Homo sapiens: one gene and its partners. The protein of the gene in region 4 purifies or fractionates together with the protein of the main gene of each other region. This does not show direct contact. Each region holds a gene or a part of one and is shown on either strand. Other genes may lie near its edges. The genes, in order: SCLT1, CROCC, HOMER1, TPM1, KLHL21, GOLGA3 and SPAG9.

Region 1 (4,467 bases), on a different chromosome or scaffold from region 4:
CCTCAGCCTCTTAAAGTGCCTTTTTTTTTTTCCTTCCCAATATTTTTGTCTGGTTTTAGTATCAGGTAATGCCAGCCTCATAGAATTACTTGGAAAATATTTTGTACTCTTCAACTTTCTGTAAGAGTATGTATAAAATGATATTATTTCTTCCTTGAATATTTGATAGAATTCACCAGTGAAGCCAACTGGACCTGAAGTTTTCTTTGTGGAAAGGTTTTAAAATACAAACTTAATTTCTTTAATAAATAAAGAGCTATTCAGTACTCTGTATTGTACTCGAGAAGAACCTCTGCAGGTCTCACATTCCCTAGGGTTCTTTCTCTGTGCAGTCTTCTATCCTTTGTCCTGCCAATTCTAGTTCACTTAATCTCCACTACTTCTCAGCTCCACCTCTTAATAAGAGTCCAGTGGTCTCCACTTGCATTTCCTCCCCCCGTGTCATGGCCCTGGAAAGTCTCTTAAGTCATTAAGGTGGGGCAATCATAGGGCTTACCTCATTTGTTTCTTGTCTCTGATTATCATTGTCTGATGTCTAGTGTACTATAAGGTATTGATGATTTTTTTGCTTGCTTTTTCATGTGTGTCAGGCAGAAAAGTGGTCCATGTTATTTCTTCTTGAGTATAAGCAGAAGTCCTATTCAAGTTGCCCTACTTTTTGATGTCTTAAACTCAAGTATCTTACTCCTACTATAACTGTTCTTTGACCTCCTCATCCTTTGAGCCCTTCATTTTCTTTACCACCTTGACTGCTTCCCAGTTTGTTTTTACTGGTGTCTTTTACAGGCTGTAACCATTGCCCATTAGTCCTTCTGCGCTTGTCAGTAATCTTAATATGATTATACCCCTGCTTTTCTATAGCTGATGCCCAGTAACACCTCATGCCATGATTGGTTGGTTTGCCTTTACAGTTCTCATACCAAATGCTGTTTAGTACCTATAGATAGCTGAACCCTCTGGATAAGTGCCTTCACAAAGTCAAGGTTAACAGAGCTAGTAAGTGACTGAGCTGGGATTTGAACCCAGGCAGTCTAGTTTCAGTGTCTCTTTTCTTAACTGCTACACAAAAAGCATACTTGCAAGAAAGGAAAACTGTAAACCTGTTTCACTTATGCATGTTGGAACTAAAATCCAAAATAAAATATTAGTAAATTGAAACTAACAATGAATGTGTGTGTGTATATATATATATATATATATATACATACATACACCAGCATCTTCAGGTATCCAGGAAACGCAAATTAAACAAGCCAGATAAGTACTTGTAGAATGAAGGAAATAATAACATTTAAGTTACAGTAAAATTTTCTCCAGATTATAGTCAATCTATGAAGATTGAAAGTGTTTCCCTCATTATTAATACATAATTTACTTCTTATCCTATTTTAATTACTGAGGACACAGATCTAGTTTTTTTCTTAATTGAAAACTCTGTCAGGGAAAAAAAAAGAGGTTTGTATTGTGATTAATTTTTTGTTTTAAGTTTTTCTTTTTTTAAAATTTATCTTTTAAGTTCAGGGGTACATGTGCAGGTTTGTTATATAGGTAAACTTGTGTCATGGGCATTTGTTGTGCAGATTATTTTGTCACCCAGGTATTAAGCCTAATACCCATTAGTTGCTTGTCCTGATCCTCTCCCTCCTCCCACCCTTCACCCTCCAATAGGCCACCGTGTGTGTTGGTCCCCTCCATGTGTTCTCATCATTTACCTCCCACTTATAATTGAGAACATGCCGTACTTGGTTTTCTGTTCCTGCATTAGTTTGCTAAGGATAATGGTCTCCAGCTCCATCCATGTTCCTGCAAAGGAGATGATCTCGTTCTTCTTTATGGCTGCATAGTATTCCATGGTATACATGTACCACATTTTCTTTAGCCAGACCACCATTGATAGGCATTAAGGTTGATTTCATGTCTTTACTCTTGTGGATAGTGTTGCAATGGACATACATGCTCATGTGTCTTTGTGGTAGAATGATTTATATTCCTTTGGGTGTATACTCAGTAATGGGATTAAAGGGTCGAATGGTATTTCTGTCTTTAGGTGTTTGAGGAATCGCCACACTGTCTTCCACAATGGTTGAACTAATTTACATTCCCACCAAAATGTATAAATGTTCCTTTTTCTCCACAACTTCACCAGCATCTGTTATTTTTTGACTTTTTAATAATAGCCATTCTAACTGGTGTGAGGTAGTATCTCACTGTGGTTTTGATTTACATTTCTCTAATGATCAGTGATGTTGAGCTTTTTTTTGTATGCTTGCTGACCGCATATATGTCTTCTTTTAAAAGGTGTCTGTTCATGAGCTTTGCCCACTTTTTAATGGGATTTTTTTCTTGTAAATTTGTTCAAGTTCCTTATAGATGCTGACTATTAGACCTTTGTCAGATACACAGTTTGCAGAAATTTTCTCCCACTTTGCAGCATGTCTGTTCACTCTGTGGATAGTTTCCTTTGCTGTGCCAAAGCTCCTTATTTTAATTAGTTTCCATTTGTAATTTTTGCTTTTGTTGCAATTGCTTTTGGCATTTTTGTCATGAAACCTTTGCCTACTCCTGTGTCCAGATGGTGTTGCTTAGGTTGTCTTCCGGGGTTTTTATAGTTTGGGGTTTTACATTTAAGTCTTTAATTCGTCTTGAGTTATTATTTATATATTGTGTAAGCAAGGAGTCCAGTTTCAGTCTTTTTTCATATGGCTTGCCGGTTATCCGAGCACCATTTAAAGTAGGGAATTCTTTCCTCATTGCTTGTTTTTGTCAGGTTTGTTGAAGATCAGATAGTTGTAGGTATGTGGCCTTAATTCTGGGTTCACTATTATGTTCCATTGGCCTATGTGTCTGTTTTTTGCACCAGTACCATGCTGTTTTGGTTACTGTGGCCCTGTAGTGTAGTTCTAAGTTAGGAAACATGATGCCTCCAGGTGTGTTCTTTTTGCTTAGGATTGCTTTGGCTATTCAGTCTCTTTTTTGGTTTCATATGAATTTTAAAGTTTTTTCCAGAGAAACGTTTCATAGTTTTCTGTGTAGAGGTCTTAAACATCTTCTGTTGTATTTATTACTGGGCATTTATTTTTTTTTATGGTACTATAAATAGCATCTTTTACTGTTTTCTAACTTTATGCTGCCAGTATCTAGAAATATAATTAATTTTTATATATTGACCTTGTATCCAACAACTTTGTTAATCTTCATGATTGATTTTTAAGTATGTATCTGTGGTTTTTTTGGATTAATCACATATGCACTCATAACTATGAATAATGACAGTTGTTTCATCTTTTCCAGCCTTTGTGTCTTTTAGGTCTTTTACTTGCTTTACTGCATTAACTTAGACCTCCAATAGAGTGTTGAGTAAATGTCATAAGAATTTATCCTTATGTGATTCCTAATTCAAGGGAAAGTTTTCAACATTTTTACTCATGAGTATGATGTTTGTTGTGTATTTTACGTAAGCATTCATTATAATAACAGTGTTCCCTTCTAGTCTTACTTTGATAAGGCTTTATCATGAATATATCTTGAATTTCATCAGGTGCTTTTTTAAAATAACTTTTGAGATGATCATATTTCTTATCATTTTTTGTGAGTTTATTTTCAATTTCTTTATTTTCTGGGCTTATCTTTATTTACTCCACTTGGCTTTCTTTGGATTTAATTTGGTGCTGTTTTTCTAACTTCTTGGAATGCATTTGTAACTTCAGACTTTTTCTCTAGTATATGCAATTAAAGCTACAGATTTCTCTTTAAGCAAGTTTGGAGGTATCACATTTTCACTATTGTTCACTTCAAAATACTTTAAAATTTATTTTGTAATTCCTCCTGAGATCTTTCTTCTTTTTTTTTTCTGAGATAGAGTCTTGCTCTGTTGCCCAGGCTGGAGCGTAGTGCAATCATAGCTCACTGTAGCCTCAAAGTAGCCTCAAACTCCTAGGCTCCAGTGATTCTCCTACTTTGGCCTCCCAAAGCAGTGAGATTATAGGCATGAGCTACCATGCCTGGCCAAAAGTGATTTCTGAACTTCCAAACATATAGAGGATTTTCCTTTTTTTTTTTTTTTTTTGGTTCTTGATACTAACTTAATAGTGCTATTGTAAGATAACATACTGTCTTTGGTTTCAGTCCTTTGAACATTATTGAGACTTTCTTTTACCAGTGAATAATCAACATTAAATGTTCTGTGTGATCTTGAAAAGAACGTGTGATTGCAAATTTGTTGGGTACTATGTTGTATGTATGTTACTTTTCTTGATGTAAATAAAAGTATGGTCTTGTTATTTCTTTTTTTTCTTTTTCTTTTCTTCTTATTCTTTTTTTTTTTTTTTTTCAGAGTCTCACTCTGTCACCCAGGCTGGGGTGCAGTGGTGCGATCTTGGCTCACTGCAACTTCTGCCTCCCGGGTACAAGTTATTCTCCTGCCTCAGCCTCTCAAATAGCTGGGATTACAGGCGCATGCCACTACTC
Region 2 (4,234 bases), on a different chromosome or scaffold from region 4:
AGGCTCCTGACCCCTTGGAGTGAACGATCTGCTCAGGTGCCCTGTGCTTCCGCAGTCCCAGCCCCACCGCCTTACCCGCCGGCTCCAGCTCTGCCCTGCCCAGAACGCTGCGTCATGACAGTGTACGCGCGCATGCGTGTTGTGGGAATTGCACGGGAGATGGAAGGCTTCAGGGACACAGCTTTCTGATGACCGGGGCTGCTTGGTGAGCACATTGAGTTCCCATCACCAGAGGAACACAGCAAAAATGGGAGGCCGCCCATGGGGTGGGGGGGGCACAGGGTCAAGGCAGGCGGACTGACATCCAAGGCCTTTGTTTGGGAAGTTGGGGAGATGGGTGCCATTAAGAGGGCAAAAAAAGCGGGGCACAGGGACTCACACCTATAATTCCAGCACTTAGGGAGGCTGAGGCGGGCGGATCACTTGAGGCCAGGAGTTCGAGACCAGCCTGGCCATGGCGAAATCCCGTCTCTAGTAAAAATACAAAAAAAAATTAGCCAGGCGTGGTGGCGTGTGCCTGTAATTCCAGCTACTCAGGAGGCCGAGGCACAAGAATTGCTTCAATCTGGGAGGCGGAGGTTGCAGTGAGCCGAGATCGCGCCACTGCACTCCAGCCTGGGCGACAGAGCAAGACTGTGTCTCAAAAAAAAAAGGGCAAAAACAAGCAAGCCATTGTAACACCTCCCTCCAACCAGCATGTGGGGCCTGGGCTCTGTGTGTGAAGGCTCACACACTCCTGTTTAGCCGTCCGAACAGGCATATGTGGTGGATGCAATTCATATCCCCTTCTTAGAGACAGGAAAACTGAGCCCAGAGACGTTAAGTAACCCACCCAAGGGTCCCACCCACGGGTCCACAGCTATCAGTGGCAGTGCTGTGGCTGAATCGGTCAGCTGGACTCCAGCAGGTGAGGATGAGTGTTAATTTCTCCTTCGGACACTGATTGAGCACCTCCTATGTGAACTTCCCCAGAGCCACCCTATGCGGTTAGGTTCCCATTTTACAGATGAGCAAACTGAGGCTCTAAGAGGTTAAGCAGCTTTGCTCAGGATCACTCAGCGGTGCCAGGGCAAGACCCCACGTTCACATCCAAACCTGCACTTGTTTGCCATGCTGCCTGGAAGGCCTGTCACTGTCCCGAGGGTGGGCTTGGATCTAAGGAGGGGCCAGAGAAAGGGGCAAGAAAGCATAGGCTGGAAGGAGTCGAGGTGCACAGGCTGGGCCCAGTCCCAGGCCTCAACAGCCCCATCTGTTCCATGGGCCGGGTGACCGAGTACCCCAGAGGCCTCCCCATCTGACATTCTGTGAGGCTGGTAAGTTCCCTTCCCAATACCGGCCTCTCTGCTCTCCCTGCCGCCTCCCCAAGCACCCCTCCCTAGAGGGCCCCATCCCTCTTGCCCCAGACCCTACCTGTCTCCCCCCGACGTCTCCTCCAATTGTCTAGAAAAGGGACACAGCTGTACAAACTTTTTTAAAAACAAGGTTTTGTTACAAAAAACAGTTCTGAACAGTTAACATTGTAAAAAGGTATAAAAATACAGGGACTCTGAGCACTCTGAGGAATTTCCCGACACATGCTCTTAACTAAGGCGGAGAGATCTCTGGGAAGCCGAAGTCAGGGCCTGGGCCTCTGACCCCTGCCCTGGGCCTGGTCCCCCTCCTCTTTCCCACGATCCCATGCTCCAGGGCTGACCAGAGACAAGGGCTCTCCCCAATCCTGGCTACGGCTCAGCCTCTCAAGGAGGAACTTTAATGATCTACAGTGGCTCATCCTAGAAGAGGGGGGCTGGACTGCAGGTGTTGCTGGGAAGCCTCTCCAGGCCTGGAGCTGGAGTACCCGTCCTCAGCACTGCCAGCAGAGCGCCTCCTCATCCCACCCCAGCTTGAGGCCCCCAAGGGACCGGGCTCTGGGTGGGGGGGCTGTCCAAAAGAAGGGTCCTCCCCTGTCCCAGGCACAGGGGTGTTCTCCAGATGCCAGCAGGAGCTCATTTCTCTGGGGGGCCGGAGGGTGGGGAGAAGGGTGCTGAGCTCCTTCGAAGCTCCTGCTGCAGCTGGCCCTTCAGTGTGGACACCTGGGGAAGAAAGGGAAGGTAAGGCCAGCCAGGTCCTCAGCCTGGCTTCAGAGAAAGGGAGGCAGCAGGGAACCCGGAGGGACACAGTGCCACAGTTTCAGGAAAGGTCTGGTCTCACTGAGAGCCAGGGGCTGTCCTGCCTTTCTCATTTTGTTCCTTATAGCAGAGTCAGGCGTCTTCTGACTGTTGGGCACCTTTGAGGGCAACTCCACCCCCATTCTTTATCCCCATCATCACTTGGGTGGGCGTGGCTTCAGCCCAGACCCAAGGGGTGGACATGTGACCCAGCCCGGCCTAGCAGAGAAGCCTTGCCCGGCCGACAAGGCTGGCTCAGGCATGGTCAGGAAGGGGTATGTGATCTGAGCGGGCCAGTGAGGGACAGCCTTAGGACTTCTGCCCCTGCTCTCTTCTGAGATGACAGATTGCTGGGAGAACCTGAGGCTGGAGCTGCTGAGGCCACCTGGCCACCCAGGGAGAAGGCTACCCTGAGCATGGAGCCAGGGGGAACAGAGCCATGGCAGGAGGCCTGGGGCCCAGGAGCATCCCGTGGCCCCGGTCTGGTCTTGGCTGACACCAGCGCAGAGCCAACCCCACCCTTTTCGGTTACGGGAGCCATCGACTGCCTATACCCACAAGGTCTTGATTGGGTCTCTCCTCTTTCTGCAGCCCCACACATCCATCCTGGCCCAGCCTTCTAAGGGGGCCTGCACACCTGCTCCTCCAGCCCACGCACCCTCTGGCGGTGGGCCCGCTCCCGAGCCTCCAGGGTGCGCTCAGTCTGCGCCTGGGCGCTGCGCAGCCGCTCCACCTCCTGCTGCAGCTCCAGCTGCTGCTGCTGCGCATCCACCTCCAGCTGGGCCGGGCTGTGGCTCTGCTCCAGCACCACCACCTGCGCCTGCAGGGAGGGGCTGTGGTCCGCGTTCTGGCCCAGTGTGAGTGTGTGTGTGCATGTGTGACGGGTTGTCAGGTACCTCCCTGGGACACGGCCAGTGCAGAGGGGGAAGGCAGGAGAGATCCTTGTGTGTCTTCCATCCTGCTGGCCCTGACAGTGAGCCTGCGAGCCCAGGATGAGTGCACCCAATGACCCCCACTCAGGCAGGTGCATGGACACACACACACACACACACACACACACACACACACACACACTCAGACATCATACACACAGGCACAAAGGCAAGCATGTAAATACCTATCTGGACTCACACAGGTGCATGTGTATGTGCAAAGGCCCAACTCCCCCATGCATGAAAACATCTGTACACAAACACATATTCATAATACCTAGACACGCCACACCATGCACAAGATTCATGCTCCATACACAAGAATCGTCACATGGATTCTCACACTGCTGCATGGCCACAACGTACATGAACCCACAGGCTCACGTGCAAACAGGCCTTTCGTGTCTTTTCTGTACACCTTAGGGAGAACCCATCCCTCCATGGCCCGCTGGGTCACTGGAAGGCTCAGGGCTCCTGGGGGAGGGGGTTATGGGCCCTGGGCTGGCTGGGCCATCAGCTCCACTGGAATTGCTGAGCACTCATACTAGGGATGAAGTTGGGGTCCCGGACTGGGTGGGGTCAGACCTCCAGCTGCTGGATCTGCCTCTGCGCCTCTGCCAGCTCCAGCTCAGCCCCCGTGAGGGTGCGGTCCAGGCGGCCCTTCTCTGCGCTCAGCCGCACTGTGTCCTCATGGCTACGAAGCTTCTCCCGCTCCACCTAGGCAGGAGAGCCACAGGAGATCAGGGTGCCAGGAGGAGCTTACTGAGGGGGCTCAGGTTCCTGAACCCTGATGGAATAACCTAACCCCACCAGAGGTAGCAGACCCTGGGGATGTGCAGTGGGATCCACCACGGTTAGGCCCCAGAGGAAGTGAGGGGAGAGCCTGGGGAGCAGCCTACCTTGTCCAGCGTCCTCCTGAGGGCTACACGGTCCTTCTCCAGCCGCAGGGCTGAGCGCTCCACCTCCCGCTTCTCAGCTTCCAGCTGAGCCAGGGCGCGCTGCAGGCTTCCCAGGCGCTCCTGCAGCAGCCGCCGCTCGTCTTGCAGCTTCTGGACGGTGTTCAGGGCTGCAGCCTCACCCTCCTGCCGCTGCCGCAGCACCTGCAACAGAAGCCAGGCAGGCCCCGAATCCCTCTGGGCCTGAGCATACTTATCT
Region 3 (3,967 bases), on a different chromosome or scaffold from region 4:
ATGTCTAGGTCACATCCCCTTTTTGTGTTCAACACAGTGAAGATTATCTGCTTTTTAAATTAATTTATTTACGATATCTAGAGCTGTGTTTTGTGCAAAAACTTAGTGATGAAAGCCTGTCTTTTGTTGTAATCTGAATAATTTCTCAGGATATTTTTGCACTGCTGAGAAGCAGTGCCATTACCAATTAATTCTTGCCAGGAGTGAGAGAGAGCTGTATCTTTAATTGAAATATACTATAACTGGGTGTATAGAGTTCTTCCCTTTTTTGTGCTGGAAGATATTTCACTCTGGTGACTACTCTGGTACACTCTGGTGTTCTCTAATCTTGTCTGTTGTATAGTTTACTTTTCCATATTGATTCCATGTATTTATGAGAAGATATTGTCTCCCATTTTATTACACATTTTAAAGCCAACTAACGAAGGCAGCTGAGTCCCTCAGAAATTTTTCTTTTTAAGTTTCTAATAAATTTGACACACAGTACTGAAATACAGCAGCCCGTCATTGACAGGCTGGTCTAGCAATGTTAAGTATATTTACAGAATATGCAGTTACATTTATTTATATATTTTGCAAGAAATCTTTTCTGAATGATCAATGCATTTCAATTTACGAATAATAATGGTTATTGGGGAACTGTTTATTATAGATAATTTTAAGGTGTATAGCTATTTTAAAGGGGGTCCATTTACATCAAACAGCTGATCAGAGGACTCTATCTAAATTGTGATCGTGGCAGATAGAGATGGAGTCATGTACTCTATCTGGCTCTACACATCAATCACATCTTGATTCAAACCTCACAAGGCAATATTCTGAATTGTTAACTAGGTATTTCAAAACAGGAATTAAATTCAATAGGCTCTTCTCAGTGAACAGGTTTTAATGTTGTTTTGATGTAATTTTAAAAGACTTTTAGCAAACATGCATTTCTTTATATGATATATTTCTTTTACGAAGCTATTTTAAAAGTAAGCCAAGTGCTGTCTAGTCTGCTTATAAAGTAGGAATTGCATCAGAGTACATATATTCTTGCTGTACAATGCCTGTGATGTTGAGGAGGGTTCTTTTTTAAAGTGTATGCTTGAGTAACTGACTCTATGGAGTCTATAAATGCACTGACTTCTTGTTTGTACCCCAAAATGATCGAATTGTTAAGTACAAAATTAAGCTAATTAACCAATTTGTAACCATTTTTTCACTCATAAACAGCTACTCAATACTAGACAATTTTGTTTTTTATGTATGTGTATGTACGTAAATACATACATATTAATTTACATTAGAGTGAAAAATAAATGGTTTGTTTCTGAAGTTAGTTTCTTAAGTGAGTTTTCAGGTGTCTCTGAAAAATTTATAACAATCATGTATTATATGTGCTGTAACATCATGTACGTTACCTCCATCTATTTTAGGATATTTTCCTCACCTATATATTATAGGGAGAATAATTTAGATACACATGCTCAGAGCTGAGATATTTCTCTGATAAATCAGGTAACAAAATGTATTTGATTGATGGAATTTTGAAGTAAATGTGTTTTTATCCATCAGTTTCTGAGTAACAAAGAGCACCAAGTTTTAATTTAAATAGGAGATTTAACACTAGGGATCAGGGAGTTTAGTATGAAGAGTTAAAAAAATTTAAAAAACAGTGTAAGCTGTTGAAATGGCAAGTGAATTATTTTAATGATGTAATAAAATATTTTTAAATTTTGACATAGTGATCATTTAATGAAAAAACTCACCAAAATGTCTCCATTTGAATTGTATTGATAATGTGGGACATATGTGTGATTCAATATATACATATACCCATATGTATATACAGAAAATTATTTTTAATACTTTCCTACTGATAATGAAATTTAAAATTGGAAATTTTGTGAGTGTTTTTCTTGTCCAATAGAGCCTAATTGTTTCCTTTTTTAGTGATTTAACAATCTCTTGAGGGCTGCACCTTTAAATTCCCAGATTGTCAATAGACATGTACAGTATATGGGATAAGGTGGACACAAGTGCACATATAAATAAAATCTTCTTAAGACTTTTAACTATTCATTTACAGTAGGAGAGTATGTAGAAATCATCATCCACAAGTCATAATTAGGTTGTGTGCCTACTGTAGTTTTTTCCATTTCTGTATTATATAAACATTTGCATATTAAAATTTGATTTTTCCCAGAGACAAGTATTATATACTGTATCTATATTTAAATCAAACTGTGGTAATATATTTCTCAGAAAATAATGTTGGGGACTATAGCCTGAACATGTGGACTTGAAGCGACATGGAGGAGGAGGTTGATCCCATTGTGTATAAGTTAATATGTGATAACTATTGAATCTTGTACAAAAACAAAAATTGAAAAAAAAAAAGAAAAGCAAAAATACAGTTTTTATTTTGAAATACATTTGTTCTCTGGAGAATGTACTTTATCTTTTTTTCCTCCAGTCTTTTACAGATATTTAAAAGCATTTAAATGATGACAGCATTTACTTAAATCTTTCAGGTGCTACTGGATTTTGCATTAGTGTGTTATGTTGTGAAATCCTAACTTTGACATAAAAGGTTTTATAAGTATTCCCCTGCCTGGAAAATTAGTTTTTGTTCTCCTCTCTCTCTCTTTCTCTTTTCCACTTTCTTTCTGCAGACTAAAACATGCTCACGAAGTTGCATCTCTCCTTGTCTCTATAGAAGATCTCCAGCACCATCATAGATTTGATGTTCTGCTGTCATTGAACTGTTGGGAAGCAGTTAGAGGAAAAGCTCACTTTTTTTTTCAGGTGGAAATAAAAGGAACACTCAAAATTAAGCCAACACCACCACTACCTTTAAAAACTAGTTTATTTGCCCTGTTAAAATTAAATGTATTCTTTAACATGTGGGCTACAGTCTCCCATGTTTTTATTTAACTGAAGCATATACACTTCGGTCATTTATCTCCTTGTGGTCCTGATTTTGTCAGTACTGGAATGGGAGGCAGGTCGGGGAAAGTTTGTTTGATGGCAGTGGATTCTTATTGTTGTTTTAACCATTGCATTTATTTGATATCAAATGATTTTGACATCCTGAAATTCTGTGCTTGAAGTCATGAAATGATTTTCATTGAATTTTTGCCTCCTAAATGTATAGCATGAAGTAAATTAATTTATACAAAATCTTAAGAAACCTTTCAGGTAAGAAGTAGTTGAGATTGACACTGTTAGAAAATTTCTCAATTTCTAAATTTAGAAATTACTAGAAAAGGAAAGGATGTGTCATTCACCTTACTCCAAATTGCGAAAGTGTGTTTTTTCCTAATATTCGTGTTAAATTTTACCTTAAAATTTTTATGATAGTTTTTCTTCATGAGAAACTGATATATAGATGTCACGCAAATACAAGCAAAGTTACTGAATTAAAGTAGTGGGTACTTAGCATTTTTTGTTTATATATTACATAGTAAAATAGCTAAAAATCATATCCCAGAAAACTCAAAAACTCAGTCAGCACTACACTGCCTGGTGGTTTCTGCTTAGTACACTAAATAGAAAAAAAAAAAAATTTTAAGTGATTTTTACCAAAAACTTGAACTAGGGAGAAATTGCATCAGGACTAGAATAGACAGAAGGCCACAAACTCCTAGTCGACTTCTTGTCAAGTCTCTGATCTCTGTAAGGACCTCTCTTTTAGGTTAAAGGACACACTGCTTCTCGGCCTTTTGGCTAAGATCAGGTGTAGGTTAAAGGACATATTCCAGAAGCCACCCAGATTATATCTGGGTGGGAAGAGGATATTTTTTGTGAAAGCAGATGCAGAAAAAAGAGCAGGAACATGCTGCCTTCAGTTTTTATCTAAGGCATATCAGGATAGCCAGAGACACAGACCAACTATTTCCTACCTTGCTGCTGCTTTTAACCAAACAGATCGAGATGGCACTGAGTTTCAGAGACTTTCAGAAAACCCTGTCACTTGTCTTGT
Region 4 (4,433 bases):
GGCAGGGTGTAAGCAGGCAGAGTGGATGAACGTTTACATGGAAGTCATATCGTTGAGAGCGTGGTCCAGCTCCTCGCTGATGGCTTTGTACTTCAGTTTCTGAGCGTACAGCTCGTCTATGACCAGGAAGTGGAAGGCAGAGGTGCAAGAACATGGAGAGTGATCAAGAAATGGAGGGTGAGTGAGGGTGGTGCGCGCACCATCCCAACACAGCAGCAAGAAAAGGGCAATGCATGAAGGGGTTGGTGCCGCAGCAGGTGGCCAATGCAGGAGGCGTGCGTTTTGTTTTAAGTAAATTGAAACAAAAACAAAGAGAACAAAACCCATTAGAAAATAAAATGAAAAAGACTCAATATGAAAATCCTAACAAATATGGTAGGTATATCAGTAAACCATGTTAAATTGTAAACGAAACCACAGAAGGCTGTCTCCTGGTGAGGGGAGGCAGGGGCTAATGGAACATCTTTCTTTTGCAGAGCTATATTTTAATTACACTGGAGTAGTCAGGCATCTGCAGCTATAAACAATGGGAAAAAAATGCAAGGGCAGTGTTTTGGAAGAACAATTTGTGACTACAGCCTGTAGTCCTTATCTGGTTCCACCTTCAAACCACTGACTTCCTGACCACACTAGACCACTGGGATAGCGATTTCTTAGTGCCATTTAAGCTACTCCTGTGGTCTTCCCACTCAAGCTGCCTATTACTGGTCCAGGAGGCTTGAAAAGCAATGGGCGCCACACTTTATATGGCAAGTCTGCAACTTAGTTTTTGTAATGCTGCAGGTTTCATACTTTGCTGCACTTTGGCAGATCATTTTGCAACCATTTGTCATTCTCTCTTCTCCACTATTTTGGTTATTATCTGCACCAAACACTAGTTCCTTCTCTAATCCCTTCTGTGATGTAGATATTTGTCTTTTTTCTTTCTTGTTCACAGCTAATCCTTCACAAGCTTCAAAGCTCAACATTTAGGATATCTGTGAGATAGAGTGGTTATTACTAAAATAAAACCTAAGTGCCTTAGGGAAGAAATGCTTAAGTATAATTTTTCCCTCCTCCTTCAGGATATAAAGTATTTTGTTAAGATAATATATGACTTAAAATAACCCCTAAATCCTTACTTTGAATTCATACTTGGAAGAAGATGGGTTCTTCTAAAAACAAGACCACAATCACCACATCATTCCCAATTTAATTAGGAAGTAACACTAAAGATATAAAATATACTAGAGTCATTCTCACCAATAAGCACCTCACTCACAGTGAAAAATAAACCTGCCACACTTGTAATGAGCATGAAGTCAAGCTGGATGGCATTTGCCACTATGGCTGGTGGCTAACTAGTCACCTCGTGAGCAGAAGACTTAGGTTCATGAGTTCAAGAGCCACAGAGAAAAACCCCAGAGGACACACAGGAAGAATGTGCAAGTGCAAAGGAGCGTATCAATGTGGATGCCCTTGAATTGGAAAATTGTTTTGCCAGGTTGGTATTCAACCATAAGGATTAAACTAAAAACACTACTTAAGATCTTACCTTCTAAGTCATCAATGCTTTTCTCCAATTTAGTTACTGACCTCTCCGCAAACTCAGCCCGAGTCTCAGCCTGTAATGATTTATTTGAGTTAAAGTTGGGAAGTTTTATGTTTCCTGTAGCTACAAACATAGGGAAAACTAGAGGATGAAAATGAAGCACATCACCTATAAAATGGATCAGAAACTACTTGTCAGTTTCAGTCACCTCTGTGAGAAATGGCAGTTAGCACAGTACATAAACTCCAAGGCGACCTTTGAATATTCCTGACTTGGATCATTGGAACTTTAAAATGAAAAGGCCCTGACCGGTTCCATGAAAACAAACTCATTTAAAATCCAGTTGGCTTCATCCACAACTCTCATATTACCTCCTTCAGCTTGTCGGAAAGGACCTTGATCTCTTCCTCATATCTGTCTTCCTTCTGCGAGTACTGTAATTAGAAAGAGCATTCCAGATGTCAGGCTGCAGCTCAATCTACTCATGGCTTCTCATGCAAAGAACTCGCCAGCTCAGCCAACAGATGTTAAGGATCTCTTAGGAGGTAATGGAACCTCTGATATCAAATGGCACACTGCAATACATTCTCTGCTTTCTTGCCTATTGTTTTACATGGGATAACAACAAGATAACTTATCCACTTGGCACTTGGTTTAAATTAAATTGATGCCTCATATCCCTAACATAAAATAAATTCTCTAGTTAAAAAAAAGAATTTGTTATCTAGTAACTCTCCAAAAATCACCTCACAATATTGCCATTTTACTAAAATGTCTACTGTAAGTGTTGCTTTCTGGCAGGGCCTCTTTTGAGCAGCTCTTAAAAGATGCCTTTCCCCCACACCATCCTCCTGGCCTACCTTCTCAGCCTGAGCCTCCAGTGACTTCAAGTTGTTCGTCACAGTTTTCAATTCTTCTTCAAGCTCGGCACATTTGCTAATGTTTTCGATCAGAGGCAGAAAGGGTGGGAGACAAGCCAAAGGAAGGAGGAGAGAAAAAGGAGAGGGATGGGAAAAAATGAAAACTGAGTCCTAGAGACGAAGGGCTGCCTTAAAGTAGCCAAATCATCAGGTATTAAAATGTTTAGGTTTTCCAGGAACACTGCCCCCCAACCTCGCAACAGCAGAAGGCAGGGTGACCAAATCCAACAACTTTGAAGTGCGATAATTTGGCTCCTTTTTTGGCTGCCCAAAGAGCATTTATGAAGGGAAAACAAAGGAGCATAAAGGACCAAGGGAAAGCACTTAAGGCAAGATATAAATAGCAGAGGGTGAAGTGAAGGTGCAGTCGTTATACCAAACGAACCAGGAGGCATTGGAAGCTGAAAGATGTCTGGGTTGCAGTTAAACCTAAAAACCACACGAGCCATCAGTACCTTATCCTCTGCAGCCATTAATGCTTTCAAGGTCTGATCCATTATTCTTAATTGTTCTTCCAGCTGTCGGACTTGGCTGTTAGTGGACACAGGAAATGCACAAGGCCATTCACAAAATCAGTGTGCAGGTAAGGCATGCAGTGATACACGCATTCATACATAAGACACCCCACACGAGTCCTCCATGTTCCATACTCGTGGCTCATCCACATCAAATGAGCACAAAAGGAGCCCGGAGCTGAAACAGGTAATGTGCAGCTGCCAGAAGGTCATGCTGTTTAGTCACTGCTCTGCAGCACCCCATTCGTGGCCTCCTGGCGCCGGGCCCGCTTACCCTTCTGAGAGCTCAGCCCGCTCCTCTGCACGTTCCAGGTCGCTCTCAATGATGACCAGCTTACGGGCCACCTGCAGCAGGAAGACACAACACACACACCATGGGTCTTGCAAGCTTTGTGTAACAGAAGGGCATGGGGGTAGAGATCAGATCCCATCAGGCCCTAAGGGTTTTGTCTACAAACAATATGATCCTCTTTCTGGTAGACCAGAGAGAAGCAACTCTCTATTAGGAGTGCCAGCAGAGAGGAGATCAGAGGCTTCTGCTTTGACTCAGAATGGTTAGCTGTGATTGGGCAGTCTCAATTGGAAGTCTGACCTAGGTGAACCGGCAGCCAGACCAAAATGTGGAAGGAGGGATAAAATACACATTCACAATCTCAAAAACAGCAGTAGGATGAGACATGTACTAAAAAGGTGGGGGCTGCCAGGAAAACAAAGTAAACCTAAGAACTCCATCAATTTGATGGCTGATCTGTGCATCTACCTCCTTACTGCAGTGGAAGAATACAAGAGACACTAACGTGAGACAAGTTGGTGAGATAACTGACAAAATCAAATTTGTATTTAGTGGAAGAACCAGAGAGAGGAAGGGAGCCTCTGAAGCAGATCAAAACTTGTGAGCATAGTGTAATCTGAAGGTAATAATGGTAATAAAAAGGAGGGGCAATGCTGTTTCAGGATAGCCACGATGTGATCCAATAAGGAAAAAACAGAAACCTTAATAATCAAGTTGCCTCTTATCACAGGAGGCTGTTTTCATGGGGACACGACCAGGAGCAAATTCTGCTGAAAACCTGCGTTGATAATAGTTTTCTACCACCCTTGAGGAGAGAGGCCTCTGTGAATCCACTGAGAAACTGTCTGTGGTCTCTAAGCTGCCCAATCTGGATGTGCCAGGTCACTCTGGGAAGAAATGACTTGCACCATGACAGCATGAGAGCCTCCTTTCACAAGACACAGGGCCCAACTCTCCCTTCCGGCCAAAGATCTTTTGTCCGGGTCTTTGTGGCTGGGGGAGAGGAGTTTTGGTCCTTCTTCGCAGTGCTACTGATTGGCTTCCTGATAAAGCCTGGGATCCCCTAGCAGGATTAAAATTAGAACCGTTTTCTGGACACAAAGGAACTCTGCTTCTCAAAACCACCCATTTCTGCCAACAAAGCAGATGGCCTCACTCGGGAATCAAGACTGTAC
Region 5 (4,467 bases), on a different chromosome or scaffold from region 4:
GCTTGGAGGGTGCCCAGGAAGCCTAGGAGTTAGTGAGCAAGTCCCTGTGTGCCCTGCTGACAAGCTCTGTGGCTCCCCAGGAGAACTGTCCCAAGGCCCAGGGCTCTGGTCTGCTGAGGTGTATGTATGGCTGGGGGGCGGTGTCCAGAGGAGGCTGCTGGATTCTTCCAGCATTGCACTCAGGACCTTTGTTTGGTAGAGGCTTGGCAGCAGTCATCTCGCTGGACAGTGGTCAGCGTGTGCTTTGCCTTAGCCACAACATGTGGCCTGGGCTTTTGGGGAGAGGGTGTGCGTCTGGGGTGAAGCCCAGTGATGTTAATTCCTCCCAAGGCAGAGGCCCTTGCGGAAGTTCGGGAGGGTGCAGGTGGGTGACTCACCTGAGTGGGCTGATCTTCTGCCTGTCATGCGTCCTGGCAGGTGGGTCCGATGGCTCCCGGCTCTATGACTGCGTGTGGAGGTACAACTCAAGCGTGAATGAGTGGGCGGAGGTGGCGCCCATGCTGAAGGCCCGCGAGTACCACAGCTCCTCTGTGCTGGACGGACTGCTGTACGTGGTGGCCGCCGACAGCACCGAGCGCTATGACCACACCACTGACTCCTGGGAGGCCCTGCAGCCCATGACCTACCCCATGGACAACTGCTCCACCACTGCGTGCCGTGGCCGGCTCTATGCCATCGGCTCCCTGGCTGGCAAGGAGACCATGGTGATGCAGTGCTACGACCCGGACACCGACCTGTGGTCGCTGGTGGACTGCGGCCAGCTCCCGCCCTGGTCCTTCGCCCCCAAGACTGCGACTCTAAACGGACTCATGTACTTTGTCAGGTGAGTTCCAGGTGCCGAGCCCCACTGTGTGTTTGGTGTCTCTTACCAGGCCCTGTCTTAAGCACACATCATGGCTGTTCTCCCTTTTCCACAGATGAGAAACTGAGGCCTAGCTGGGGTTGGAGGCTGGGTCTGTCTCTTTGTTTTTGTTTTGTTTTGTTTTTGAGACGGAGTCTCGCTCTGTCGCCCAGGCTGGAGTGCTGTGGCGCAATCTCAGCTCACTGCAAGCTCCACCTTCCGGGTTCACGCCATTCTCCTGCCTCAGCCTCCAGAGTAGCTGGGACTACAGGCGCCCACCACCATGCCTGGCTAATTTTTTTGTATTTTTTGTAGAGACGGGGTTTCACCGTGTTAGCCAGGATGGTCTTGATCTCCTGACCTCATGATCGGTCCGCCTTGGCCTCCCAAAGTGCTGGGATTACGGGCGTGAGCCACTGCACCCGGTCTGTTTTTTTTTGTTTTGTTTTGTTTTTTTAAAAGAAGAGTTTCGCTTTTGTTGCCCAAGCTGGAGTACAGTGGCGCGATCTTGGCTCACTGCAACCTCTGCCTCCCAAGTTCAAGCCATTCTCCTGCCTCAGCCTGCCAAGTAGCTGGGATTACAGGCATGTGCCACCATGCCTGGCTGATTTTTATATTTTTAGTAGAGACAGGGTTTCTCCATGTTGGTCAGGCTGGTCTAGAACTCCTGACCTCATGTGATCCAGCTGCCTCAGCCTCCCAAAGTGCTGGGATTATAGGCACAAGCCACCACACCTGGCTCATTTTTTAACTTTTTGTAGAGACAGGGTCTCGCTGTATTGCCCCGGCTGGTCTCAAATTCCTAGCTTCAAACAATCGTCTCACATTTCCTGCCTCCCAGAGTGCTGGGATTGTAGGTGTGAGCCCCCACACCCAGCCAGGCCTGGTCTTTCGGAGCCCACAGTGCTTGTTCCATTCCTTTGGGTTTAAGGAAAACCCCAGGCTTTCTTAAGCGATTTCACAGGTGGTGGAGTTGAGCTCTTCCAGCAAGAGTAGGCTGTAGGCTGAGCAGCACGGAGCAGAGACAGGCAGCCTGCGGGTCATCATATGTCTGCTGGCCTTGATGACCTGTCTGGTCACAGCCAAATGCTGCCTCCGGCTGGTTTCTGGGCATCAATGATGGCACGGGGCAGCCCCTCCCTGCTGTACTCCGCTGCTTGTTCACATAATCCTGCTGCTCCCTCCCAGCCTAGAGCCTGCCTGAAGCTCTGGGTCCAGGAGGGAAGGGGAAGAACTGAATGACAGTCCCCACTGTGCCCTTTCGTGCTGGGGCTTTGAATGGGGAGCTTGGGGGATGTGAGCTCCCTGCTCCTTGGCCCCCTGCCTCGCACTGCCAGAGCTGCCCTGGCCTTGGCATCTGCCCCACCATCCCCCCAGACAGGAGGCTCCTTACCAGGCTTTTGGAGTGAGCACCAAGAAGAACAGGGGTGGCGTTGCTTGTCACGCAAGTAGCTGGGCACCACCACATGCCCAGAACCAATGGTCTTGCTCTGAGAAAGCCCTGGAATCTCAGCCAGCTCTGGTCCCATTATAAAACATCATCTGACCCTTTGCCCGGCTCTCCCTCCCCCAAGTTGTGAAGGTGTCTTCAAAGAGGGGGTGGAGATGGCTATAAATACAACTTATCAGAGGGCCAGAACCTTCCTTTCGGCCCCTAGGCAGTGGTTCCAGGCCCAGTGTCTTTGAGAGTCCTCCTCCCCTCCCCCATCTGTCCTAGAGCAAGATGTGAAGATGTGCGCCAGGGAGGTCTGCCTGCTGGGTTAACCTTCCCATAGGGAAGCATGAGGGTCTGCCCCGCCACCCCCACCCACTGCTGACCTTTCCAGGGGTTTCCTAAGCCACTTGCACGTGTGGGAGGAGGCAGTGCTCTGGAAAGGCTGCATGCGTTCATCTTACCAGTGTGACCTGTGCCGGAGCACAGAGGAGGGGCGCCCAGGCTCAGCCTGAGTGGAAGCTGCTTGAGCCCTAAAGAGAAGGCTAAGCATGCAGGGGCCCTGCTTGGGGCTGGTCCCCCTGGGCTATTTGTCCCGGTGTCACTTTGTCTGCGCACTTTGGCTCTTCAAGAGCCACATAACCCTCTGCCCAGAACACCACCTGTCTTTGGGCAGCTTGTGCCTAGGACGTGCCATTCTCAGGGAGGCCACAGCCTCAGCCGTTGTCCATGTGACCCACAAATGACCTGGGCCTCCCTCCCCTTGGTTCTGGTACAAAATGCCTCCTTGGCTGGGGTGCAGTAGCCCCCTCTGGGAATGCCGGCGAGCTCTGTCCAGCCTCTGGGCTGTGGTTTGCAAGTCTCTGCTGGGGAAAGACAGGGCAGCCTAGCAGGTTCCAGGGTGTAATCATCATCATCATCACCACCACCACAGGGCCCACAAACTGAGGGTGACTTTGACATTTTGAAATGATTGGGGGCAAAAAATCAGGAATAACATTTCAAGTTAGACGAGATGTAAATGTCTGTCCATGGATAGTTTTCTTGGCACACAGCCAGGCTCGTGTCTATGCATTGTCTGTGGCTGGTTTTGTGCTGCCGTGTCAGGTTCACAACTACTGTTGTTTGTCTTGTAGTATCTTTGTTTCTTTTTTTTGTTTTTGAGACGAAGTCTCACTCACTATGCCTCCCAGGCTGGAGTGCAATAGCACGCTCTTGGCTCACTGTAATCTCCGCCTCCCGGGTTCAAGAGATTCTCCTGCCTCAGCCACCCGGGTTCAAGCGATTTTCCTACCTCAGCCTCCTGAGCAGCTGGTATTACAGGCACATGCCACCACACCTGGCTAATTTTTGTATTTTCACTAGAGACGGGGTTTCATCGTGTTGGCCAGACTGGTCTCGAACTCCTGACCTCAGGCACTCCACCAGCCTCGGCCTCCCAAAGTGCTGCATTACAGGCGTGAGCCACAGTGCCTGGCCTGCATCTTTGCTTTTCAAGGCTGTGCCTTTGAGCCTTTTACTGTGGGGATATAAAGGGTGTCAGATGAAGTTGAAGGGTCTTGACCCCAAAGTGAGGGGTACTTCAACATAGTAGTGAACAGGACAGGGTTGGGGGCTCATAGTGATATTGGGGACAGTGGCAAGGAGTGTTCCAGGGCCTGTGGGGATGCACAGTGGAGCAAGGAGGCTTCTTTAAGATCTCAAGGGAGCTACTGTAGGCTTGGGGGGTGGGGGACAGCCACCTTGGTACTGGGTGATGGGGAGGCACTGAATGGGCTTCAAGTACTCAAAAGCCTGATCTTCAGGTTTGGGAGTGAGAGTTCTGGCCCTGGAGCCCTGGCTGAGTGGGCACAGGGGGCTGAAATTGGCTCCTAAGAGCTGGGGATGGAGCCTACCTGGCAAGGGTGCTGCTGGATGGCATCAGAAAGATCCAGGTCACTGGAGGAGTCAGTGACCCAGGGGAGGACTCTGCTCCAGCCCTGCATGTGTGCACTTCCTCCTCGCTCTGAGCAGTTGTCCTCCTGCTGCCCCCTCCACAGGGATGACTCCGCTGAGGTGGACGTGTACAACCCGACGAGGAACGAATGGGACAAGATCCCGTCCATGAATCAGGTAAATTTTCAGGCGGGCCAGCATTGGAAGCACAGGCTGGTCCTGATTTTGCAACCCAAGTGTCATCGTGATGAGTGTTTGG
Region 6 (4,467 bases), on a different chromosome or scaffold from region 4:
GCTTGCTTCATGATCTGAAGGCTGTCGTGGTCATGGTCAGTTGCTTCCCCAGGCCCCTCTCATTCCTCCCCATGGCCAAGAGCCCAGCCTTCTCCTGGGGCCATGGGCTTCTGGAGAAGTCTGTCCAGGCACTGAGCCCTGGCTAGGCCACTCAGCAGGGTGGGCATGAGCAAAACCACTTCAGGGCAGGACACAGCCAGAGAGTGGAACAGGCGGCCCTACTGTGACGGAGCTCCACAGGGAGGGGCTGGGGAGTGGGGGGCGCCGGGACACTGAGCTGCCACCAGCAGCGCTGAAGCGAGAACTGTCTCTGAACCTGAGATATCTGACGTTTTTCTTTTTTTGAGACGGAGTCTCACTCTGTCGCCCAGCCTGGAGTGCAGTGGCGCGATCTTGGCTCACTGCAACCTCCGCTCCTGGGTTCAAGCGGTTTACCTGCCTCAGCCACCCAAGTAACTGGGACTACAGGCACCCGCCACCACACCCGGCTAATTTTTGTATTTTTAGTAGAGATGGGGTTTCACCATGTCGGCCAGGCTGGTCTCGAGCTCCTAACCTCATGATCCGCCCACCTCAGCCTCCCAAAGTGCTGGGATTACAGGCATGAGCCACTCGCCTGGCGAAGTTGGGTTTCTTATTTGCAACCAAAGCATTTGAACTGAGAAGGGTTCCACTATGAATTCTGTAACCATTCCACCAAAGAGGCTGTACAGTGATCCTCCCCAGAGGGCTGGAATCAGGGCCTGCCCCACCACAGAGCCAGAGGCCGACGGTCAGAAGGTGGCAACACCAAAAGTAGCAACGCTGGGCACACGGTGAAGTTTTGTTCTTCGGGTCTCACGCGTGGCGGCATGTCCAGGGCTCACGTGACCTGCCCCACGCTGCCGCCACAGCAGATGGCCAGGCCTCACCTCGTCCTCCAGCTCCAGCACCTTCTCCCGGGACTCCTCCAGCTCCTGGCTGGTCAGCGCTATGACCTCCTGCAGTTCCTTTTCCAGCAGCGTCTTGCTATGACTGACAGCCTGCAGCTCCGCCTCCAGGGCCTGGATCCTTTCCTAAGGGCCAAGATGGAACGGGCGCTTGGTCATGGGACAGGCCCTGACCCCCCTCACTTCCTGTGGTGCCGGCAGGCATGAGGCTGTGTGGCTGCACACACCAGACACCAGCTGTCTGACACAGTCTCACAACCTTCCTTTTTGTTAAAGAAGTTGAATTAACCGACCACAGCATGCACACGATGACACACGGGGATAGTTGGGACAAACAAAATCATCTCTTCAGTTCAATGCTTCAAAAATACAGAAGAAAATCTGACCTGCAGATAATGGCTATAAATCACCATCTGTGGCAAGCAAGCAGCACCAGTTGTAATAAATACCACACACATGCTCACGCACCACACATCACATACACACACTCATGTAACACACACCACGTGCACATGTTCACATCCCACACACCACACACACACGTGCTCACACCCCACACGCACATGCTCACACCCCACGTGTTCACACCCCACACCACACATGCACATGTGCTCACACCTCACACTGCATGCACACATACACCCCACACTGCATGCACACATATGCTCACATCCCACACACCATGCACACAAACACTCCACACGCTGCACACACACATGCTCACACCTCACACATGCACGGATACATGCAGGCACAGGTGTGCTCTCACACCCCGCCCACTTGCTGCCTCGATGGTACCAGGCCCTTGCCAAGCATGTTCCAGTACCACCTAACTTAACCCTTACATGAGAAGGTTCTCATTCACCTCAATTTGGCCTCATTTTGCTGAGGATCAAAAAGGTGAGAAATTTGCCAAAAGTCACCACTTGCGAGGGGTGAAGCCCGGACGGACACAAGACATCGGCTCGCAGCTGTGCTATTCCTCAGCTGCAACAGCGTGGCGAGGGGCCAGCTCTGCCCGGCCTTTGCGACCTCCCCACCCCAGCCCTTAGTGAGCCCAAAGAAAATGGCAACTGAATCAATCTCCCCAACATTTTACAAAGCAACCAGGTGAGAGGAAGCACTTGATTTATTTATTGAATTTCAGACACAGAGTCTCTATCGCCCGGGCTGGAGTGCAGCAGCAAAATCATGACTCACTGCAGTTTCAGCCTCACCTCCCAGGCTGAGGCGATCCTCCCACCTCAGTGTCTCAAGCATCTGTGTCCACAGGCACGTGCTACCATGCCTGGGTTTTATTTTTGTATTATTTGTAAATACAGGGTCTAATTATGTTGCCCAGGCTGGTCTCAAACTCCTGTGCTCAAGCGATCCTCCTGCCTCAGCCTCCCAAAGCGCTGGGATTATAGGTGTGAGCCACCGTGCCCGGCCGAGTTTATTTGACAAGAAAACCCCACGTTATGATACAGTCTCTTCCTACCCATAAATTCTTAAGTGGACAGGAGATAGAAACAAACCACATATAAGAAGAAATACTAAGTTGTCAGTGCAAGGACGTGAATTGGAGAATAATAAATAAAATGCGGATGAACTCACTCAGGTAGAATGTTATGCCTACCACGAAAGGTGACAGAGCACGGAGGGCCACGGCCTCCACGGAAGGCTCTGCTCAGAGCCCTCCAGAAAGGGCACCCGCTTGTTCTGGGCCACCGCAGCATGGCTACCTCTAAACGCTCCCTGAACCCTGTCAATCGCTGACCCCATGCCCTCACTCCTGCTTCTCAGTGAGTGCGGAGGCTGCTTTTCCTCCTGAGATGCGAGGAGGCGCAGAGGCAGCTGGAACGCGAGCGGACCAGGGCAGGCCCTCCCTCTGCCCCAAGGGAGCAGCTGAACTTCTCTGAGCCAAGGAGATTTCTTGAGGAAAATCAGGTGAACGCCACAGGCCACAGGCCATGTGGGGTTCATGAGGGAGACGCGAGGCAATGCTCAGTCACTGTGGGTTCCTGGTAACCTGGAAGATGAGCGGGAGTTTAGAGAGTTGCCACCTCCCACGCGAGCTCGGCCCCGCTAGGCTTTAGGGGACAACTGCTGATGGAGAGCCCTTCCCTGCACTGAGGGGCTGGTGACCCTGGCCGGGGATGGCACGGTGTTACCTACATGTAGAGCCAGGCTGCTGTCACTGCTGCCACCCTGGGCTCGGAGCTGGCCCAGCTCCGCGTCCGCAGCCTCCTTGGCCGCGAGGGCCTCCTGCAGGCGGCGGCTGAGGATGCCCACGGCGTTCTCGTAGGCCTTATGTTTGGTCTTCATCTCCTTCTGGGCGCTGGTCAAGTCTGAGCCCAGCCGCCTCATCTTCTGCTTCTGTTCCGTGATGGCCCTGGGGTGTCATGAGGGAGACACAGGAGGAAGCTGAATTATCCCGATGTGACCGTCTGGCATTCTGGTTCGCCTCCCCCCCGGCCCCCGCACCTCCCACCTGGCCCCCGCACCTCCCCCGGGCACATGCAGACTTACTTCCGGGCCTCTTGCTGCAACTCTTCGATTTGTTTCTTCAGCGCCTCATTGGCCTCTGTGACCGCGACCATCTGCTCCTTATCGAACTGCAACGACTGTGGAAGGGAAGGAGGGCGTGAGGAGCGGCACTGCCACCCCCAGCCTGTCTCCCCTTCCTGGCTCCAGCCCATCACCCCCACCAAAGGCACTGCTCAGGCTCGCCCTGGAGGACTTGGGCCTTGAGAAAAATCCTGAGAGAGACGTCTGCCTTCTTACAAACCACTCTTTTTTTTTTTTATTGAGATGGAGTCTCACTCTGTCACCCAGGCTGGAGTGCAGGGGCGTGATCTCAGCTCACTGCAACCTCCGCCTCCCAGGTTCAAGTGATTCTCCTGCCTCAGCCTCCCGAGTGGCTGGGACTACAGGTGCCCGCCACCATGCCCAGCTAATTTTTGTATTTTTAGTAGAGACAGGGTTTCACCATATTGGTCAGGCTAGTCTTGAACTCCTGACCTCGTGATCCACCTGCCTCGGCCTCCCAAAGTGCTGGGATTACAGGTGTGAGCCACTGCACCCGGCCACAAACCACTCATTACTGAGACCAACAAGCGTTTCCAAACACTGTCCAGAGCATCAGAGGCACAACAGGACATGACTGGTTCATAGGAAAGCCTGTGGACCCAGGACCTCTCCTCCAAACCCTCAGGACCCAGGACCCCTCCCCAGGGCCCCAGGAACCCTCCCCAAGGCCTAGGACCCCTCCTCAAGGATCCAGACCCCTCCTAGGAAACCCCAGGACCCCTCCCCAAGAGCCCCCGGGAACCCTCCCCACAAGCCCCTGGATCCCCTCCCCACAGTCCCCAGACCCCTCCCCCAGAGCCCCCAGGACCCTTCCTGAGACCCCGGGACCCCTCCCCAGAACCCCTGGGACCCTTCCCCGGAGACCCCGGGACCCCTCCCCGGAGACCACGGGACCCCTCCCCGGAGACCCCGGGACCCCTCCCCGGAGACCCCGGGACCCCTCCCCGGAGACCCCGGGACCCCTCCC
Region 7 (4,467 bases), on a different chromosome or scaffold from region 4:
CACTATCCCAGCTCATTGCAACCTCTGCCTCCCAGGTTCAAGCAATTCTCCTGCCTCAGCTGCCTGAGTAGCTGGGATTACAGGTGTGCACCACTACACCCGGCTAATTTTTGTATTTTCAGTAGAGACAGGGTTTCACCATGTTGGCCAGGGTGGTGTAAAACTCCTGACCTCAAGTGATTCATCTGCCTCAACCTCCCAAAGTGCTGGGATTACAGGCGTGAGCCACCACACTTGGCCCACACTTGATATTTTATTTTTTAATTTTATTTATTTTTGAGACTGAGTTTCACGCTCTGTTGCCCAGGCTGGGGTGCAGAGGCACGATCTTGGCTTACTGCAACCTCTGCCTTCTGGATTCAAGCAGTTCTTCTGTCTCAGCCTTCTGAGTAGCTGGGATTATAGGCATGAGCCACCATGCCCAGCTACTTTTTGTATTTTTAGTAGAGATGGGGTTTCACCATGTTAGCCAGGCTGGTCTTGAACTCCTGACCTTGTTATCTGCCTACCTTGGCCTGCCAAAGTGTTGGGATTACAGGCATGAGCCACCATGCCTGGCCCATTTTTTAAAAAATTTATTTTTGAGACAGAGTCTTGTGCTGTCGCCCAGGCTGGAGTGCAGTGGTGCGATCTCAGATCACTGTAACTCCCACCTTCCAGGTTCAAGCAATTCTCCTGCCTCAGCCTCCCTAGTAGTTTGGGATTACAGGCACGCGCCAGCACGCCCGGCTAATTTTTGTAGTTTTAATAGAGAAGGGGTTTCACCATGTTGTCCAGGCTGGTCTCAAACTCTTGACCTCAGGTGATCCCCCTGCCTCGGCCTCCCAAAGTGCTGGGATTACAAGCGTGAGCCACCGCACCTGGCCTAAAAAACACATATTTTAATATTTTTATAGATCTTTTGATTGATTGATTGAGACGAGATCTCACTCTGTTGCCCAGGCCAGAGTGCAGTGGTGTAATCCCGGCTGACTGCAACCTCTGCCTCCTGGGTTCAAGCGATCCTCCCATCTCAACTTCCGGAATAGCTGGGACTACAGGATCATGCCGCCATGCCTGGCTAATTTTTGTATTTTTTGTAGAAATGGGTTTCCCATGTTGCCCAGGCTGATCTTGAATATTTGGGCTCAGACATTCCTCGCACCTCAGCCTCCCAAAGTGCTGTGATTACAGGTGTGAGCCACTGCACCCAACCTATTTTCTTTTGTTGTTGTTGTTTTTTTTTTTTTTGAGATGGGGTCTTGCTTTGCCACCCATGCTGGAGTGCAGTAGCGCGATCTTGGCTCACTGCAACCTCTGCCTCCCGGGTTCAAGCAGTTCTCCTGCCTCATCCTCCTGAGTAGCTGGGACTACAGGTGCTCACAACCACACCTCGCTAACTTTTGTATTTTTAATAGAGATGGGGTTTTACCATGTTGTCCAGGCTGGTATTGAACTCCTAACCTCAGGTGATCCACCTGCCTTGGCCTCCCAAAGTGCTGGGATTACAGGTGTGAGACACTGTGCCCGGCCAACCTATTTGCTTTTTCTTTTCTTTCTTTTTTTTTTTTTTTTTTGATATGGCATTTCACACTTGTTGCCCAGGCTGGAGCGCAATGGTGCGATCTCAGCTCACTGCAACCTCCGCCTCCCAGATACAAAGGATTCTCCTGCCTCAGCCTCCTGAGTAGCTGGGATTACAGGCATGTGCCACCATGGCCAGCTAATTTTGTATTTGTAGTAAAGATGGGGTTTCTCCATGTTGGTCAGGCTGGTCTCGAACTCCCAACCTCAGGTGATCCGCCGGCCTCGGCCTCCCAAAGTGCTGGGATTATGGGTGTGAGCCACCACGCCCGGCAGCGGCCAACATTTTTTCATATTTTTAAAAATACCATTTTTTTTTTCTGAACTGTTTGTTTTTGTGATTTTTTTTTCCTTTGGTTGGGTTTTTTTTTTTTTCTTTTTTTTAGAGATGAGGTTCAGGCTGGAGTGCAGTTGTGCAATCATGGCCCACAGCAGCCTTGACCTCCAGGGCTCAAGTAGATCCCACTTCCTCAGCCTCTGAGCAGCTGTGACTACAGGCATGCGCCACCATGCCTGGCTAATTTTTAATTTTTTTTGTAGAAACAGGGTCTCGTTATGTTATGCAAGCTGAACTCACTATGTTGCCCAGTCTGGTCTGGAACTCCTGGGCTCAAGTGGATCCTCCTGCCTTGTGGATCCTGCCAAAGTTTTTTTTTTTTTTTTTTTTTTTTTTTTGTTGAGACAGAGTCTGGCTCTGTCGCCAGTCTGGAGTGCAGTGGAGTGTCTTGGCTTGCTGCAACCTCCACCACCTGGGTTCAAGCGATTCTCTTGCTTCAGCCTCCTGAGTAGCTGGGACTACAGGCGCGCGCCATCACACCCAGCTAATTTTTGTATTTTTAGTGGAGATGGGGTTTCACCATGTTGGCCAGGATGGTCTTGATCTCGACCTCAAGTCATCTGCCTGCCCCAGCCTCCCAAAGTGCTAGGATTACAGGTGTGAGCCACTGCGCCTGGCCTTTTTTTTTTTTTTTTTTTTGTAGAGATGGGGTCACACTGTGTTGCCCAGGCTTGTCTTGAACTCCTGGCCTCAAGACATTTTCTTACCTCAGCCTCCCAAAGTGTTGGGATTGTAGGTGTGAGCCACCACACCTGGCCATGGTTAACGATTCGAATAATGTTCACACTGCCCCTAGCCAGAGTAGATAGAGATATGCCCCTGCACCTAGTCATTCAGACACTTTCTGAAATGAACAATCTATGTTTGTTTTCTGGCGGGAGTGGGATGGGAAGGGGTATGGTTGTTGCTTTATGAAATAATAATTTGTTAGTTAATTATTACTTAAGCTCCTAAGACATTTTTTTTTAAAGACAAAGACTAGCTCTGGATTAAGACATCTTTTTTTAAATTTGAGATTTCTGAATGTGAATATCTAAATGAGATACCATTATGTGTCCCTGCTGTAGTGACACTCATATTTTTATTTAGTTAAAAATCACAAAAGAACGCTACGCATGGTGGCTCATGCCTGTAATTTCAGCACTTTGGGAGGCCGAGGTGGTGGATTGCCTGAGGTCAGGAGTTCAAGACCAGCCCTGACCAACATGGTGAAACCCCGTCTCTACTAAAAATACAAAAATTAACTGGGCATGGTGGCGGACGCCTGTAATCCAAGCTACTCCGGAGGCAGAGGAAGGAAAATCACTTGTACCTGGGAGGCGGAGGTTGTAGTGAGCCAATATCTTGCCATTGAACTCCAGCCTGAGCTACAGAGTGAGACTGTGTCTTCAAAAGAAAAAACAAAACAAAAAAAAATCACAAAAGAGGACACCAAACTGGGTATAGTACCAAACTGGTTCAGAGGGTAGATTAGTAGATTGACTATTCACTGGATTGCTGAAGTGTGTGCCATAGGTCACACATCCAGTTCTGTGCTTGAGAGAGTACAGGATTCCTGCTTCTTGAAATCTTTACCTTACCTTTAACTACATGCTGCTTACTTATGTTGTACTGAACTTTGCTTCTCAGGAGAACTGATGTTAGAACCTACCCAAGTTATTTTGCTCTGCTCTGCACTCAATGAATACAGCTGTTATCTAAATAAGTTATTAGGTTGTGGTCAGAAATATCTGCATAGACCAGTTTAATAATGTATGTAATGTTATATATATTTAAAAAGCTGTTATTTGGAAATGGGTATATATAAGTTCTGTTTTTTACTTTGAAATCTTGACCAGTGATATTTGATTATTGCTTTGAACATAGCACTGTGTTTTCTTTTCTTTTTTTTTTTGAGACGGAGTCTTGCTCTGTCACCCTGGCTGGAGTGCAGTGGCGGGATCTCGGCTCACTGCAACCTCCGCCTCCTGGATTCAAGCGATTCTCCTGCCTCAGCCTCCCGTGTAGCTGGGACTACAGGCGCCCGCCACCACACCCGGCTAATTTTTTGTATTTTTAGTAGAGATGGGGTTTCACTGCGTTAGCCAGGATGGTCTCAATCTGACCTCGTGATCTGCCCGCCTCGGCCTCCCAAAGTGGTGGGATTACAGGCATGAGCCACCCACCCGGCCATACTGTGTTTTATTTTCTTAAGAATTACAGCATTCAGTAGTTTGGCATAATAGGCACACCCAAAAATGTGTGAGGTGAACCATGGGAATTTATATATTAATGTAATAGAGAAGTACCAAGTTGAGGGTATAGAATTTTATTTTATGTTATTTTTTTCGAGACAAGGTCTGGCCCAGGTTGGAGTGCAGTGGTGCGATCTTGGCTCACTGCAACTGTTGCCTCTTGGGCTCAAGCCATCCTTCCGTCTCAGCCTCCCAAGTAGATGGGACTACAGGTGTACACCACCACGCCCAGCTAATTTTTGATATTTTGTAAAGACGGGTTTCACCATGTTGCCCAGGCTGGTCTCGAATTTGTGAGCTCAAGTGATCTGCCTGCCTCGGCCTCCCAAAGTG

What was found.
Region 1: the proteins of TPM1 (region 4) and SCLT1 purify together in Homo sapiens (affinity purification with mass spectrometry; 3 studies listed by BioGRID and IntAct, with this or other methods). This does not show direct contact.
Region 2: the proteins of TPM1 (region 4) and CROCC purify together in Homo sapiens (affinity purification with mass spectrometry; 3 studies listed by BioGRID and IntAct, with this or other methods). This does not show direct contact.
Region 3: the proteins of TPM1 (region 4) and HOMER1 purify together in Homo sapiens (affinity purification with mass spectrometry; 3 studies listed by BioGRID and IntAct, with this or other methods). This does not show direct contact.
Region 5: the proteins of TPM1 (region 4) and KLHL21 purify together in Homo sapiens (affinity purification with mass spectrometry; 3 studies listed by BioGRID and IntAct, with this or other methods). This does not show direct contact.
Region 6: the proteins of TPM1 (region 4) and GOLGA3 purify together in Homo sapiens (affinity purification with mass spectrometry, with the first as the bait; one large-scale study listed by BioGRID). This does not show direct contact.
Region 7: the proteins of TPM1 (region 4) and SPAG9 purify together in Homo sapiens (affinity purification with mass spectrometry; 2 studies listed by BioGRID and IntAct, with this or other methods). This does not show direct contact.

What each region holds. Positions count from the first base shown.
Region 1 is NC_000004.12:129,083,050-129,087,516, reverse strand, and holds part of SCLT1 (sodium channel and clathrin linker 1), read left to right. Parts: intron 1-4,467. UniProt on the Homo sapiens protein: Adapter protein that links SCN10A to clathrin. Regulates SCN10A channel activity, possibly by promoting channel internalization.
Region 2 is NC_000001.11:16,970,198-16,974,431, reverse strand, and holds the end of CROCC (rootletin), read right to left. Parts: intron 4,180-4,234; coding exon 3,979-4,179; intron 3,797-3,978; coding exon 3,665-3,796; intron 2,968-3,664; coding exon 2,785-2,967; intron 2,073-2,784; coding exon 1,986-2,072; 3' UTR 1,468-1,985; downstream 1-1,467. UniProt on the Homo sapiens protein: Major structural component of the ciliary rootlet, a cytoskeletal-like structure in ciliated cells which originates from the basal body at the proximal end of a cilium and extends proximally toward the cell nucleus.
Region 3 is NC_000005.10:79,371,718-79,375,684, reverse strand, and holds the end of HOMER1 (homer protein homolog 1), read left to right. Parts: 3' UTR 1-3,049; downstream 3,050-3,967. UniProt on the Homo sapiens protein: Postsynaptic density scaffolding protein. Binds and cross-links cytoplasmic regions of GRM1, GRM5, ITPR1, DNM3, RYR1, RYR2, SHANK1 and SHANK3.
Region 4 is NC_000015.10:63,059,747-63,064,179, reverse strand, and holds part of TPM1 (tropomyosin alpha-1 chain), read right to left. Parts: intron 3,312-4,433; coding exon 3,241-3,311; intron 2,983-3,240; coding exon of another isoform or gene 2,907-2,982; intron 2,468-2,906; coding exon 2,392-2,467; intron 1,966-2,391; coding exon 1,903-1,965; intron 1,605-1,902; coding exon 1,535-1,604; coding exon of another isoform or gene 1,371-1,534; exon of another isoform or gene 117-1,370; coding exon 38-116; coding exon of another isoform or gene 34-37; exon of another isoform or gene 1-33. UniProt on the Homo sapiens protein: Binds to actin filaments in muscle and non-muscle cells. Plays a central role, in association with the troponin complex, in the calcium dependent regulation of vertebrate striated muscle contraction.
Region 5 is NC_000001.11:6,595,403-6,599,869, reverse strand, and holds part of KLHL21 (kelch-like protein 21), read left to right. Parts: intron 1-417; coding exon 418-823; intron 824-4,312; coding exon 4,313-4,385; intron 4,386-4,467. UniProt on the Homo sapiens protein: Substrate-specific adapter of a BCR (BTB-CUL3-RBX1) E3 ubiquitin-protein ligase complex required for efficient chromosome alignment and cytokinesis.
Region 6 is NC_000012.12:132,783,253-132,787,719, forward strand, and holds part of GOLGA3 (golgin subfamily A member 3), read right to left. Parts: intron 3,536-4,467; coding exon 3,441-3,535; intron 3,304-3,440; coding exon 3,087-3,303; intron 1,056-3,086; coding exon 912-1,055; coding exon of another isoform or gene 774-911; exon of another isoform or gene 616-773; intron 1-615. UniProt on the Homo sapiens protein: Golgi auto-antigen; probably involved in maintaining Golgi structure.
Region 7 is NC_000017.11:51,110,443-51,114,909, reverse strand, and holds part of SPAG9 (C-Jun-amino-terminal kinase-interacting protein 4), read left to right. Parts: intron 1-4,467. UniProt on the Homo sapiens protein: The JNK-interacting protein (JIP) group of scaffold proteins selectively mediates JNK signaling by aggregating specific components of the MAPK cascade to form a functional JNK signaling module.